2 linked regions of the Homo sapiens genome follow. The protein of the gene in region 2 interacts with the protein of the main gene of each other region in a pairwise test. Each region holds a gene or a part of one and is shown on either strand. Other genes may lie near its edges.

The links. Proteins that work in one complex are often made in the same cells at the same time.
Region 1: the proteins of SETX (region 2) and UBA2 interact in a two-hybrid assay, tested with the Homo sapiens proteins (one study listed by BioGRID and IntAct).

Annotation. Positions count from the first base shown.
Region 1 is NC_000019.10:34,431,355-34,438,380, reverse strand, and holds part of UBA2 (SUMO-activating enzyme subunit 2), read right to left. Parts: intron 6,521-7,026; coding exon 6,450-6,520; intron 5,034-6,449; coding exon 4,969-5,033; intron 3,514-4,968; coding exon 3,413-3,513; intron 1-3,412. UniProt on the Homo sapiens protein: The heterodimer acts as an E1 ligase for SUMO1, SUMO2, SUMO3, and probably SUMO4. It mediates ATP-dependent activation of SUMO proteins followed by formation of a thioester bond between a SUMO protein and a conserved active site cysteine residue on UBA2/SAE2.
Region 2 is NC_000009.12:132,295,968-132,302,993, forward strand, and holds part of SETX (probable helicase senataxin), read right to left. Parts: intron 4,837-7,026; coding exon 4,663-4,836; intron 2,346-4,662; coding exon 2,113-2,345; intron 1,088-2,112; coding exon 920-1,087; intron 62-919; coding exon 1-61. UniProt on the Homo sapiens protein: Probable RNA/DNA helicase involved in diverse aspects of RNA metabolism and genomic integrity.

The sequences.
Region 1 (7,026 bases), on a different chromosome or scaffold from region 2:
ACACCTGAGTGTCAAATATGAGTTTACCTTGATCACACTAAACAGAAAAACTACTGGAAAGACAAACAGCAGCTTTCCAAGAAATTATTTCTCAAAGTTGTAAATGTTATCTAAATATTATTCGCAGCCATTTTCTTATATGTGTTTTTTTTTTTTTTTTGAGCAAAACTAAGTGGGTCTGGGGAATACAGCCATATCCTTATAATCTCCTGAAATTAAGTAAACTACAAGATTAATTTCAAGATATATCTCCCTACACAGAAAAATCTTAGGTGTTACTAAACCAAATACTCTTCATTTTATTGATATACGTTTCTTTTTGGCGGTGGGGAGACGGAGTCTTGCTCTGTCACCCTGGCTGGAGTACAGTGGCATAATCTTGGCTGCAATCTCCGCCTCCCAGGTTCAAGCAATTCTCCTGCCTCAGGCTCCCAAAGAGCTGGGATTACAGGCATCTCCCACCACTCCCAGCTAATTTTCATATTTTTAGTAGAGACGGGGTTTTTCCATGTTGGCCAGCTTGGTCTTGAACTCCTGACTTCATGTGATTCGCCCGCCTTGGCTTCCCAAAAGTGCTGGGATTACAGGCGTGAGCCACTGCGCCCAGCCCATTTTATTGATACACATTCAAGTTTAAAATTACAATTTAAGGAATTTATGCCTTGGAAGAAGTACATGACACCTGAGACAACTTTTCAAAACTATCAAATGAATCATCTTTCATTATCTCAGATATTCCTAACCTCAGTCTCTTCTTTTTTTCTTTTTGTCTGAGACGGAATTTCGCTCGTTGCCCAGGTTGGAGTGCAATGGCGTGATCTAGGCTCACCACAACCTCTGCCTCCCGGGTTCAAGTGATTCTTTTGCCTCAGCCTCCCAAGTAGCTGGGATTACAGGTGCGTGCCACCACACCCAGCTAAATTTTGTATTTTTAGTAGAGATGGGGTTTCACCATGTTGGCCAGGCTGGTCTCGAACTCCTTACCTCAGGTGATCCGCCCGCCTTGGCCTCCCAAAGTGCTGGGATTACAGGCGTAAGCCACCATGCCCAGCCACCTTCAGTCTTAATACACAGTGGTGTGTCAGAATCACAGTAACAAGGATATAAAAAGCAATGTCTGGCCGGGCGTGGTGGCTCATACCTGTAATCCCAGCACTTTGGGAGGCCAAGGCAGGCGGATCACCTGAGGTCAGGAGTTTGAGACCAGCCTGGCTAACATGGCAAAACCTCATCTCTACCAAAAATGCAAAAATTAGCCAGGCTAATTGTTCAAGAATCAAAACTCTCAAATACTGTTTTAATATAAATTGCAGCAGATTTAGAGTTTTCTCTGAAACACCATTTCTGATGCCCTCAGCCTTCCAATATGCTTTCTTGAGGGTAGCCACATGGCAAGCAGTCATGAGACTCATACTGCAATGCAGACAGAGAACTTCCGTCTTGATCTGTCAACAGATACTGAAGGCCTCCACTTATTCAACAACTTAATACGCACTGACATACACAACAGTCTTTTGTAGAATGGTATTCAATAAGGTTCCAAGAATAACATTTAACAGTTAAAAGAAACAAAGACACAATTTCTAACATGAATAAGCTGCCAAAAAAAATTAGACGCAACCAGCAAATGTTAAGTACATTATAATTCTCTTTCTATAGTTTCAAAACATGGAAAACGACTCTTCAAATGTAACTACAATATTTAACTTCTTAAAAGAACTGAAAGAAAAAATATCTGAATAGCAAATGAAGCCGTGTTGAGGTTTTAAAAACTGAGATATGTGCCAGGCATGGCGGCTCACACCTATAATCCCAGCACTTTGGGAGGCCGAGGCAGGTGGATCACCTGAGGTCAGGAGTTGAAGACCAGCCTGACCAACATAGAGAAACCCCGTCTCTACTAAAAATACAAAATTAGCCAGGCGTGGTGGCGCACGCCTGTAATCCCAGCTACTCGGGAGACTGAGGCAGGAGAATCGCTTGAACCAGGGAGACGGAGGTTGCGGCGAGCTGAGATCGCGCCACTGCACTGCAGCCTGGGCAACAAGAGCGAAATTCTGTCTCAAAAAAATAAACAAATAAATAAATAAACCAAAACAAAACTGAGGTATGAGCACACAGGTATTTTGTTCTATTATTCTCTAGTTGTATTTAAATGTTTGAAGTACTTCACAAATACACCCCTAAAAAGTTTTCAAAGTTCCCTTCCACATTATAAGCCCAGACTCTTAGACAACAGAATTTTTTGGTTTTTTTTTTTTTGAGACAGAGTTTCGCTCGTTGCCCAGGCTGGAGTGCAATGGCGTGATCTCAGCTCACCGCAACCTCCGCTTCCCCGGTTCAAGGGATTCTCCTGCCTCAGCCTCCCAAGTAGCTGGGATTACAGGTGCACACCACCACGCCCGCTGATTTTTGTATTTTTAGTAGAGACAGGGTTTCACCATGTTGGACAGGCTGGTCTCAAAATCCTGACCTCAGGTGATCCGCTCGCTTCGGGTTCCCAAAAAGTGCTGGGATTACAGGCATGAGCCATCACGCCTGGCTTTTTTTTTTTGAGATGGAGTCTCACTCTGTTGCCCAGGCTGGAGTGTGGTGCCATCTTGGCTCACTGTAACCTCCACCTCCGAGGTTCAAGCAATTCTCATGCTTCAGTCTCCCAACTAGCTGGGATTACAGGTACACGCCTCCACACCCAGCTAATTTTTGTATTTTTTGTAGAGACGTGGTTTCACTACATTGGAGAGGCTGGTCTCGAACTCCTGACCTCAAGTCATCTGCCTACCTCAGCCTCCCAAAGTGCTGGGATTACAGGCATGAGCCACTGCACGCAGCCGACACAAAGAAATTTTTGATGCCTGGTATATCATGCTTACCACTCTAAGGATTTTAATACAAAAGTCAAATGAAACAAAATGGCAGAGCTGAAAGATTTCCTTGCCCATAGTCTTTTGAGCACGTTTATAGCATTTTAAGTTTGTTTTTTGAGACAGAGGCTTGATCTGTAGCCCAGGCTGGAGGGCAGTGGTGCAATCTCAGCTTACTGCAACCTCTGCCTCTCAGGTTCAAGTGATTCGCCTGGCTCAGCCTCCCAAGTAGCTGGGATTACAGGCGCCGGCCACCATGTCCAGCTAATTTTTGTATTTTTAGTAGAGATGGGGTTTCACCATGCTTGCCAGGCTGGTCTCAAACTCCTGACCTCAGGTGATCCGCCCACCTCGGCCTCCCGAAGTGCTGGGATTACAGGTATGAGCCACTGCACCTGGCCCCGCATTTTAAGTTTTATATAAGCATAAAAGTCCTTACATTTTGGATGTTCACCTGTTCATTTTATATAAATACAAAGTTTATTTCCTCCTGCTCCAAGGTCTCAAATAAATATTTGGGAAGTTAAAAAAATAAAACTTTTCTTTACCTTTTTGATAGTAGTTACTTGTCCAAGATACCCAGCTGTTCCACTTTCAATAAGAGGAACATCAGCTGCCAGGCACATTCTATTAACATGGTTTCGGGCAGCTGGAAGTAAAACAAACAGTATGAGTTTTTGGGAAAAAAAAAATTAGTTATCTTTAATTAGGATGACACAGACTCAAAACTATCTTACTGGCTTCATTTTTTGTACAATTTTCTTATAGCTATGGCCAGAATAATACAACTGTTAATTACAGACATTTAAGAGACATTCACTTAGCAAAATATCAAATAGAATTTATATCACAAATTTACTCCAGGAGAAGTACCCACAGAAACACATAATCTTAAAAATCCAACGTGCCATATTTCTCTTCTATTGCTGTACCTTACACAAAACACTGTTTCAAGGTGTTCCTAAACTCACCACTATTCTAATATAACTAGCAGATAATACATGATAGAAATGAAGGCAGAATGTGGAATATCAACTTGGAACTATTAAAGTAGTTTAAGGCTAGGGAAAAAAGATGAGTCAGGTTAAGAGAGTAATTTCACGCCAGGAGCACTGGCTCATGCCCATAATCTCAGCATTCTGGGAGGCTGAGGTGGGAGGACTGCTTGAAGCCAGGAGTTCGAGGCCAGCCTGGGCAACAAAGCAAGACTTCATCCCTACAAAAATAAACATAAAAAAATTAGCCGGGTATGGTGGTACCTGTCTGCAGAGTAGCTACTGCAGAGGTTGAGGTAAGAGTATCACCTGAGCCCATTTGAAGGCTTCAGTGAGTTATGATCACACCAGTGCACTCTAGTCTGGGCAACAGTGAGACCCCCCAAGCCTTAAAAAATAAACGTAATTTTGACTTTTCCTTGTGTTTTTTATTTAGATATTTCTGGCCCAACTTGTTGTAAACTCACTTAGTAGATATACTTTTACATGTGGAAGTAATTACAGACAAAGAATATCACTCAAGCATCCCCCACCCCACCCTCCAGTCACACTTTTTCTTTTTTTGAGACAGGGTCGCACTCTGTCACCAAGGCTGGAGTGTAGTGGTGTGATCTAGGCTCACTGCAACCTCTGCCTCCTGGCTTCAAGCGATTCTCCCACCTCAGCCTCCGGAGAAGCTGGGACTACAGGCACATGCCACCACACCGGCTAATTTTTGTGTTTTTTGGTAGAGACGGTTTCACCATGTTGACTAGGTTGGTCTCGAACTCCTGACCTCAAGTGATCCTCCTGCCTTGGTCTCTCAAAGTGCTGGGATTACAGGCGTGAGCCACTGTGCTGAGCCACAGTCACACTTTTTGAGAGCTTTTCACTTCACTTCTATTTATACCTTTTGGTAGAAATGCAGAGAATATGATAGCTAAATTCCCGCCTGGAATAAGTCATTTCTATATAAAACTGCAATCAATGGGCATGCTTTAAACTCGATCATTTCTCTTAAGTCTTTTAAGTTCTAAATCACAATAGTCTAATAAATATTAAATTTGTAAACAAATTTGATATGGGAGAGAGGAAATACTGAGAAATTAAAAGTATTAAAATAACCTCACCTCTGTTATCTAAAGCATTCATAACCAGTATAAACTGTCGGAAAAATTCCACATTATAGTCAGGGCTACAAAACAAAATAAAAAAAGGTCACCAAAATAACTAGCCTTCCACATGATCTTTGCAGTATAATAAACAGTTCTGAAAAAAACATAGTAACTGTAAACAAAACTGATATCAGGATTATATGTCATATAGATAGTAAGGTTTGACTCTTTCCAAACATAAGCAGATTTTAAAGAAATTATTTCCTTCAAATTCCTATCCTTTTTGGCCAGCTAGGGCACAAGAGAAAGATCTCAAACTGGCAGAAAGATGGCATGACTTCACTAGTCCCACTAGGCCTTCTTTGGGCAGCAAGTGCCTGGGAACGCATAAAGAACACATTCCCAGGATCTGCCTGGCCTCTGACTTCACCTCACATGATCAGGATCAGGCAGGGTTCAGGCCCCTAGGGTCTCTGTTTTTAGCAGCACTGGGAAAGCAACACAGGGTAAGGAGGTTATAGGGCTACAGGCAGGTTCACAGAGTAAAAAACTAAAAAACAAGCCGGAGATACAGGCCGGGTGCAGTGGCTCACGCCTGTAATCCCTGCACTTTGGGAGGCCAAGGCGGGTGGATCACCTGAGGTCGGGAGTTTGAGACCAGCCTGGCCAACATGATGAAACCCCGCCTACTAAAATACAAAAATTAGCTGAGTGTGGTGGCGTGCGCCTGTAATCCCAACTACTCAGGAGGCTGAGACAGGAGAATCGCTTGAACCCAGGAGGCGGAGGTTGCAGTGAGCCAAGATCATGCCACTGTACTCCAGCCTGGGCAATAAGCGCAAAACCCTATCTCACACACAAAAAAAACACAATCCGGAGATACAAATGCCCTGAGAAAGTGTTAAGTACCTCAATTCCAGTACCTCAAACAAGGACTATTTTTAACACTATTTACTTGCAAGCTAAACCACCATAGATAAAGGACAATTTCGGCCCACAGTTCCTTTGCTCCAACTCCTCCAAAATTATATATTTACTCTATCTTTACTGAGATAAATATATTTATGTACTGTCAATACTACTGCCCTACCACAATTCCAAGTGTTATATTACAGAAGTCAGAGTCATACTACAGATTATTTTGGGAGGGAAACTTTTAAACAAAAAAAGGCAAACACTTTAGAAAAGTCTGAATCATCATAAATAAGGATATTTCATAGTTTAAAATATCTTCTTACTTAAGGCAAGCATATAAGGTCTTTATAAATTTCCAAGTAACTTATTTATTAAAAGTATTAAACTATCTCACCATTCTAAATCATTCAAACCATGTATTTATGAACTGGTAAAAAGAATGCCACTCTGTAAGCAGAAACCACCACTGTTTAATAATTCTAGAAAAATCATTTTTTTTAAAAAAGCTGAATGACTTTGAGCTTATATATTTGGCTTACAAAACCCTTATACAACTTTGCAATGTAATCACTATAGCATACTTCATGATGCTGTCATGGTAGGCAACGATATTAGCTTTCGGGTAAAACTGCAGTACACTTTCCTTGGCAACCTGGAAAAATAAACAACACTGAATTACTACAATATTTCTGTTCCTATCTGAAATCTGCTTCTGGAAGCCACAATGCTGTTATCTACTTACATAGTACCTTATTTATATTAAACACCAAAGAAGTCCAAAAATGTGAGAAAATTGCATTAGGGTTAAGCTACACTTATAAAATTATACTTTTATACTTATAAAATAACCGGAGAGCCCCCCCTGACCCACGTACCACCAAACACACTTCTACATGAATGGCAAGCTTCAGCAAAAATACAACATGAAGTAACCAAGTGTCATTCATTCATTCACTTAACAAGTATTTACTGAGCATCTTGCATGTACCAGGAACTATACAACGTACATGTCAAGCAAGAGAGACATTAATCAAATAACAATCCAGATTAAGTTCAACTACAGACTCTGATAAATGCCATGAGAATGACAGGAAAAGGCCAGGCATGGTGGCTCATGCCTGTAATCCCAGCACTTGGGAGGCCAGTGTAGGAGGATCC
Region 2 (7,026 bases):
GGACACGGTTTTGTTTGATTTTGGCATTGGAGTTTTCGTCTGAATGCCCCTTCCTCTGGTTCTACAATTTGCCACATATACATACCAAACAAACACACAAAAAATATGGGTGAGCTCTATTACATAGCTTTAAAGTTTGTCTTTACTTCCATGTATTTTTGAAAGTTCTCGTAATAAAGTTAAAAATAAATAAAAGCATCTACATCTAACACTGATATTTAAAATTACTCCAGCAAAAAAATTTGTCATAACTGCTCTGAGCCTTACTTTATCATCCACTTACTTTAATGAATACTCAATCCAAGCCAGGCACAGTGGCTCACGCCTGTAATCCCAGCACTTCGGGAGGCCGAGGCGGGCGGATCACTTGAGGTCAGGAGCTCGAGACCAGCCTGGCCAACATGGCGAAACCCCATCTCTACTAAAAATACAAAAATTAGCTGTGGGTGGTGGTGTACGCCTGTAATCCCAGCCACTAGGGAGGTACTCGGGAGGCTGAGGCAGGAGAATCACTTGACCTGGGAGGCAGAGGTTGCTGTGAGTCAAGATCGTGCCACTGTACCCTAACCTGGATGACAGCGAGACACTGTCTCAAAAAAAAAAAACAAAAAACCACAATCCAACCAAAATGCAGCCCAGCATTCACAGCATTCTACGTGACCTACCGTGAAGCCTGAAGACCATCATTCTAGTCCTTACGATTTGTTTCACATAAGATAGTGGTTTTTTCCTCTTTTTATTTCCCATAACCTTCCCTCCCTCTGCCACCCTTTTCTCTGACACAGTTACACACAATATAAAAAATATATACAAATCAAAGAGGAAATGGCATGTTAATACTTATTTACATGTCAGTTAACTCAAGTAAAGTAAAATGATACAGCTAGTTAACAGCATCAGTGCCCTCACCCATACCTACCTCTGTCAGTAGACGATAGAGGAGGCCAACAATAGTTTTTGATTTTCCTGTTCCAGGTGGTCCATGAATCAAGCAGATTTTGGCAACTGATGGTGAGTGTTTCACCATAGCATATGCAGTTTCTATTGCTTTCTTTTGATCTTCATTGAAATCTCTTAAGTACGCAATCTATATAAAAAACACATTTTTGAGAATGAGTTGCTGTTTCTGTAGTGGAATTTGAAAGGAAGAACATGAAAAAGACCTGTCCAAATTTCTTTCAATGCATGAGACAAAAGCTTTGGTTATGGTCAGACAAGACAAGGACACCAAAGTGACCTTTAATCTAAAAAGCACGTTCACTACTGGAAAGAAAGCTAATTACTTACTAATTACTAATTAGTGTCTGTAACGCTTCAAGTACTTACAAATACAACTGTACTTTTATTTTTTATTCTTACAAAGATAATCACAATAAATTGCATTTACTAATCCACAACTTTTCTTCTATTTACTACTCTGTTTTTTTCCTTCTTTAGTCAATTTTCTCCTTAGTGAAAACATCCCAAGACTATTTATTTCCTAGCACATGTGATACAGTGGAAAAAGCATGTATGCCAGGGGAAGATCTGGGTGTAAGCTTCACTTGCACTTACAAGCTAGGCCACTACGCTCCTAACCCAAGCCTTGGCCTCTGTTACTCATTAAATCTAGGATTCCTTAAGAGGTGAGAACAGACTGAGATAATGCACATGAAAGCCATAGCATACAGCTCTAGAGTTTCTAAATAGTTAGTTTCCTTTTGCATTTCTCTGTTAACTTCCTAGAGTTTATACACAGCTTCACATGTTCAGTTGACAACTTCATCTTTGCATTTCCAACAATACCGGCCAATTCTCCATCAATCATTCAAATGTAAATTTAACACCACTAAACCTGAGACTTCTCACCTAATGCACATTAAGTAGGCTGCTGACCTAACATTTTAATGTTGCTCTTCCAGCAACCTTCGACGCTTATTGTACTGTACCTTTTCCTGAAGTGAGCTGACTTAACCTAAATTACATACTTTGCAATACTAAAGAAAACTAACACTAAACTGTTCACCGTGAACACATTTTTGTTGTAAACATATAGGAATACATAGCAGCTAAAAAATATGATGCTTTAACATCTTAACATGAAATTATCTAGTATCATACATCATCACTCACAATTCTCTCAGATGTTGTAGTCAGTAAATCTTTTGTACAGAAGTCCATAGGGTTTGGATTCAGAACAGCTCTAGCCAGTTGGTTCCGACTACCCAACAGAGACATGGCTTTCAACTTCCTTTGTGTAGTTACCAGAGAACTGATTACAATACAATTCACAAGTTCGTTTAAATTGGCCGGAAAGTTCTCTTGAGTCTGGATGGAAAGGTAACACTCAGTTTTCCCATTACGCACTATCATCAAGAAAGAGAAAAAGCAACTTCAGTTATCACTGAATAATGCTGCCTAGTTGTAAAGGTCATGCAGAATTAGGTATTTTTAACATATTTTTGGATATTATTTACATAATTTACCCAGTAAATATTTATGGACTGCTTCCTGAACCCAGTAATGTTCTGTCCTCCGGAGGCTTATTTTCTAGAAGATGGAGGCAGATAACCAAATAAATATGTCAGGTGGTAGTAAGTGCTCTGAAGAAAGCACACAAAGGGAGGAAGTGATGGGGATGGAGGCAGATAAGCTGGTCCGAGAAGGTCTTCCTGATGAAATATTTGAGCAGAGACTTGAAGTAAGGGAGTAAACAGTACTCAGCAGAGGGTAAATAGTACTACATGCAGAAAATAAGCAACTGCAAAGATCGTAAGACAGAGATGTGCCAGGAATATTTTAGAAATAGGGAGAAGGCTAACATGGATAGAAGGAAAAATAGGGAGAAGAACGCTTAGCGACTCAGAGTAAAACGGGGCTACATTTTATAGGGCTGTGCAGATCACAGTAATGACTCTGAACGCTATTCAGGATCAGGGTAGAAAACCATTGGGCACTCTGTGTAGGGAAATAACATGCTCTATCTCACAAACTAAAAGAACCACTCTTACCTCAGAACAAAGAATAACTACAATGAGAAAAGTACAGAAACAAAAAGACCACTTACAAGGTTACCATAGTAATTTAGGTAAAAGTTAATGACAGCTTGGACCAGGAGGCACTAGTAGACGTGGGAACTGGATTTGGGATATATTGCAAAGGAAAAATCAATCATATCTGCTGACAAATTAGAAGTGAGGTGTGAGAGAAAGTAAGGATCATGGATAACTCCAAGGTTTTTGGCCTGAGTAACTGAAAGAAGTGAGGCCCCAATTAACAAGATGGGAAAGAATGAAGGAAGTGCAGATGTCAGGCAGAAAATCAAGTGTTAACTTTTGGACTAGTGGATTTGAAATGTCTAACACATTTCCAAATGGAGGTATCCAAGACATGATTTTGATCTATGAGGAGTTCAGGGAATGAGACTGCCTTAGAACTATAAATTTGGCAAAGGTAATCATTTTCAAGAGCCAAAAGCACAGAGTAAGCCATCAATCCTCACTGCAACTCTTCTAAATGTATCCTATATTCTACAGAATTAAGCCCTGATCACACAAATAAACATGGTACACCTGTTATAATGCAGTACAATGTTGACACACTTTATTGCTATATTAATATATCATGCAAAAAGGAGAAGGAATAATGAAATAATGTTCTTCTCTTCACATAACTAAGACTAAAAAAGTTGCAATTGCCAAAAAGGCAGTTTGGCATAAGAAAAACAATGTGGACTTTGCAGTCAACAAAAGCAGGCTTCAATTCTGGACTTACCAATTAACACTGATGACAGCCTTGAAAATAGGTTTACTTAACATCCCTGAACCATGATTTCCTGGGGAGCAAGGAATAATTTCTTCTACCTTTTGGGGCTTTGGGGAAGATTATAAATGTACATAAGAAGGACAAGTCTCGGCTGGGCGCGGTGGCTCACGCCTGTAATCCCAGCACTTTGGGAGGTTGATGGGGGTGAGGAGTTCGAGACCAGCCTAGTCAACATGGTGAAACCCCGTCTCCACTAAAAACACAAAAAATTAGCCGGGACTGGTGGCGGATGCCTATAATCCCAGCTACTTGGGAAGCTGAGGCAGGAGAATCGCTTGAACCCAAGAGGCGGAGAGTGCAGTGAGCCGATACAGCACCACTGCACTCTAGCCTGGACAACAAGAGTGAAACTCCGTCTCAAAAAAAAAAAAAAAAAAAAAAAAAGGGACAAGTCTCACTGCATACATCTGGTATTCATTAAATTTAGGCTAATATTTTTGTTATTAAATTACCTAGGGAGAAACATACAACGGATGGAAGTGATGTAAGCAGATTCCTCAAGCTGCCTTACAGTGAGTTTTATGTTTGGTCATCTCATTAGTAATTGGCCACAAAACCAAGGATGAAATGTAATTTAACAAACAACAGATGGTCTGCAAATGGTCCATTTTATAGCAAACACAATGATGGATAAAGAAATGTAACAAAAGGATAGAACATTACAAAAATAAATACAAGGTCTTTTCCAGTTAAGTCTAGAAAAACTAGAAAAGAGACTCTGAATGGCCATGTAATCAACATAGCAAAAACATGTTCGGTAAATGTCTATCAAATACACTTGATATACACAATTGAGAAGTAGATTATTAGATGAGACTGTATCTGACATTTCCTGTCAATGCCTCATTATTTACTTACTGACTGACGTGCGGCGAAATTTATGAACATAACCAGAATGATATTCGTGGAGATCTTGTATGTCATTTCTCTCTGTATCTTTCTTCTCTTCATTTATTCTCTCAGGAGCTAAAAACACCAAATCGTTTTCCTTTGGATAAAGCTGTTTAGCCAGTTCACATTCTTCCAGATAAACTATGAAACAAGAAGAAGTCGGAATTCATATAACTCTAATAGAATTATTTTAAATAAGATTAACTTAAAAGAAATTAAATCCTTGTATTAAGTTCAAAAATACACAGCACTAAAGGACTCTGCATATACTTTAAAATGGTAATCTAATCCAATCAAAAACTTCAAATATTAAAAATATCAATTATAGAATATAGTTTTCTTCAAAACTGCTATAAGGCCAAAATAGACAAAACTATAATATTGAAAAGTAGCTAATAAATTTTCTTTCCTTTAGGTTTATTCTGCTTTTTTTTTTTTTTTTTTTTTTGAGATGGAGTCTCGCTGTGTTGCCCAGGCTGGAGTGCAGTGGCGCGATCTCGGGTCACTGCAAGCTCAGCCTCCCAGGTTCTCGCCATTCTCCTGCCTTAGCCTCCCAAATAGCTGGAGGCGCCCGCCACCACGCCCGGCTAATTTTTTTGTATTTTTAGTAGAGATGGGGTTTCACTGTGTTAGCCAGGATGGTCTCGATCTCCTGACCTCGTGATCCGCCCGCCTCAGCCTCCCAAAGTGCTGGGATTACAGGGGTGAGCCACTGTGCCTGGCCTATTCTGGTTTTTAACTAAATTTCTCTCATTTGTTTCCAACTTTCAAAACCCCCGAAGAAAATTCGGAAACAGATCCAAGTAGTTATACACCGCATAATGATGTTGTGGTCAGTGATGGACCGGATATATACAACAGTGGTCCCATAAGATTATAATATATTTTTACTGTATCTTTTCTATGTTTAGATACACAAATACTTCCCCATGTTACAATTACCTACAGTATTCAATACGGTAACATGCTGTACAGGTTGGCAGACTAGGTGTGTGGTAGGCTACACCGCCTAGGTTCCTCTAAGTACACTCTTACTTCTCATGATGTTGGCATGATGATGAAATCGCCTGACACATTTCTGAGAATGTATCCCCATCATTAAGTGACATGTGATTGTACATACAAGAATTTTGCAACTTCTACGCATTTCAAACAAGTGGGGAAAGACGGTTGTAAACTACATGGGACTAGGAAAACAGAGAAAGCACTGGAATAAAGTTCAGTACCAACTGCCGAATCTAGCCCTATACTCTGAAAAATACAAACCACTGCTGAGAGAAACTGAAGACAGCCTGAACAAATGAAGAAATGTACTAAGTTCAAGGCCTAAGACTTAATATTGTTAAAATGTCAGCTGTCCCCAAATTAATCTTTAGAGTCAAAGCAATCCTAGTAAAAATACCAGCAGATGGCCGCCAGGCACAGTGGCTCACGCCTGTAATCCCAGCACTCTGGGAGGCCAAGGCAGGTGGATCATGAGGTCAGGAGATCGAGAACATCCTGGCCAACACGGTGAAACCCCGTCTCTACTAAAAATACAAAAAATTAGCCGGGCATGGTGGCAGGCATCTGTAGTCCCAGCTACTCGGGAGGCCGAGGCAGGAGAATGACGTGAACCCAGGAGGCGGAGCTTGCAGTGAGCCGAGATCACACCACTGCACTCCAGCCTGGGTGACAGAGCAAGAATCCATCTCAAAAAAAAAAAAAAAAAAAAAGGCCAGGTGTGGTGGCTCACGCCTGTAATCCCAGCACTTTGGGAGGCCGAGACGGGCGGATCACCTGAGGTCAGGCGTTTGAGACCAGCCTGGCCAACATGGTGAAACCCCATCTCTACTAAAAATACAAAAATTAGCCAGGCGTCGTGGCAGGCGCCTGTAATCCCAGCTACTTGGGAGGCTGAGGCAGGAGAATCGCTTGAACCTGGGAGGTGGAGATTGCTGTGAGCCAAGATTGCGCCATTGCACTCCAGCCTGGGCAACAAGAGTGAGACTTTGTCTCAAAAAAAAAAAAAAAAAAAGCAAAAAAAAAAAAAAAAACCAGCAGGCATTTTTATAAATGTTGACAAGTTGATTCTAAAACTGATGACAATAAAAAGAAACTTTTTACAAAGAACAAAACTGAAAGGCTGACTATCCAATTTCAGTATTTTTTATAAAACAACAATAAGAGACTGTGGTATTGGTGGAAGGCAGCTATACAGATAAAGAAAACGGTGTTTAAAAGCAGACCTGCAATCAAGATCAACTGATATTCCGACAAATATGCCAAGTTATTGAATGGCAAGGTTATTCAATGAGAAAGGCTACATTTTTTTTAACAAGTAACACTAAA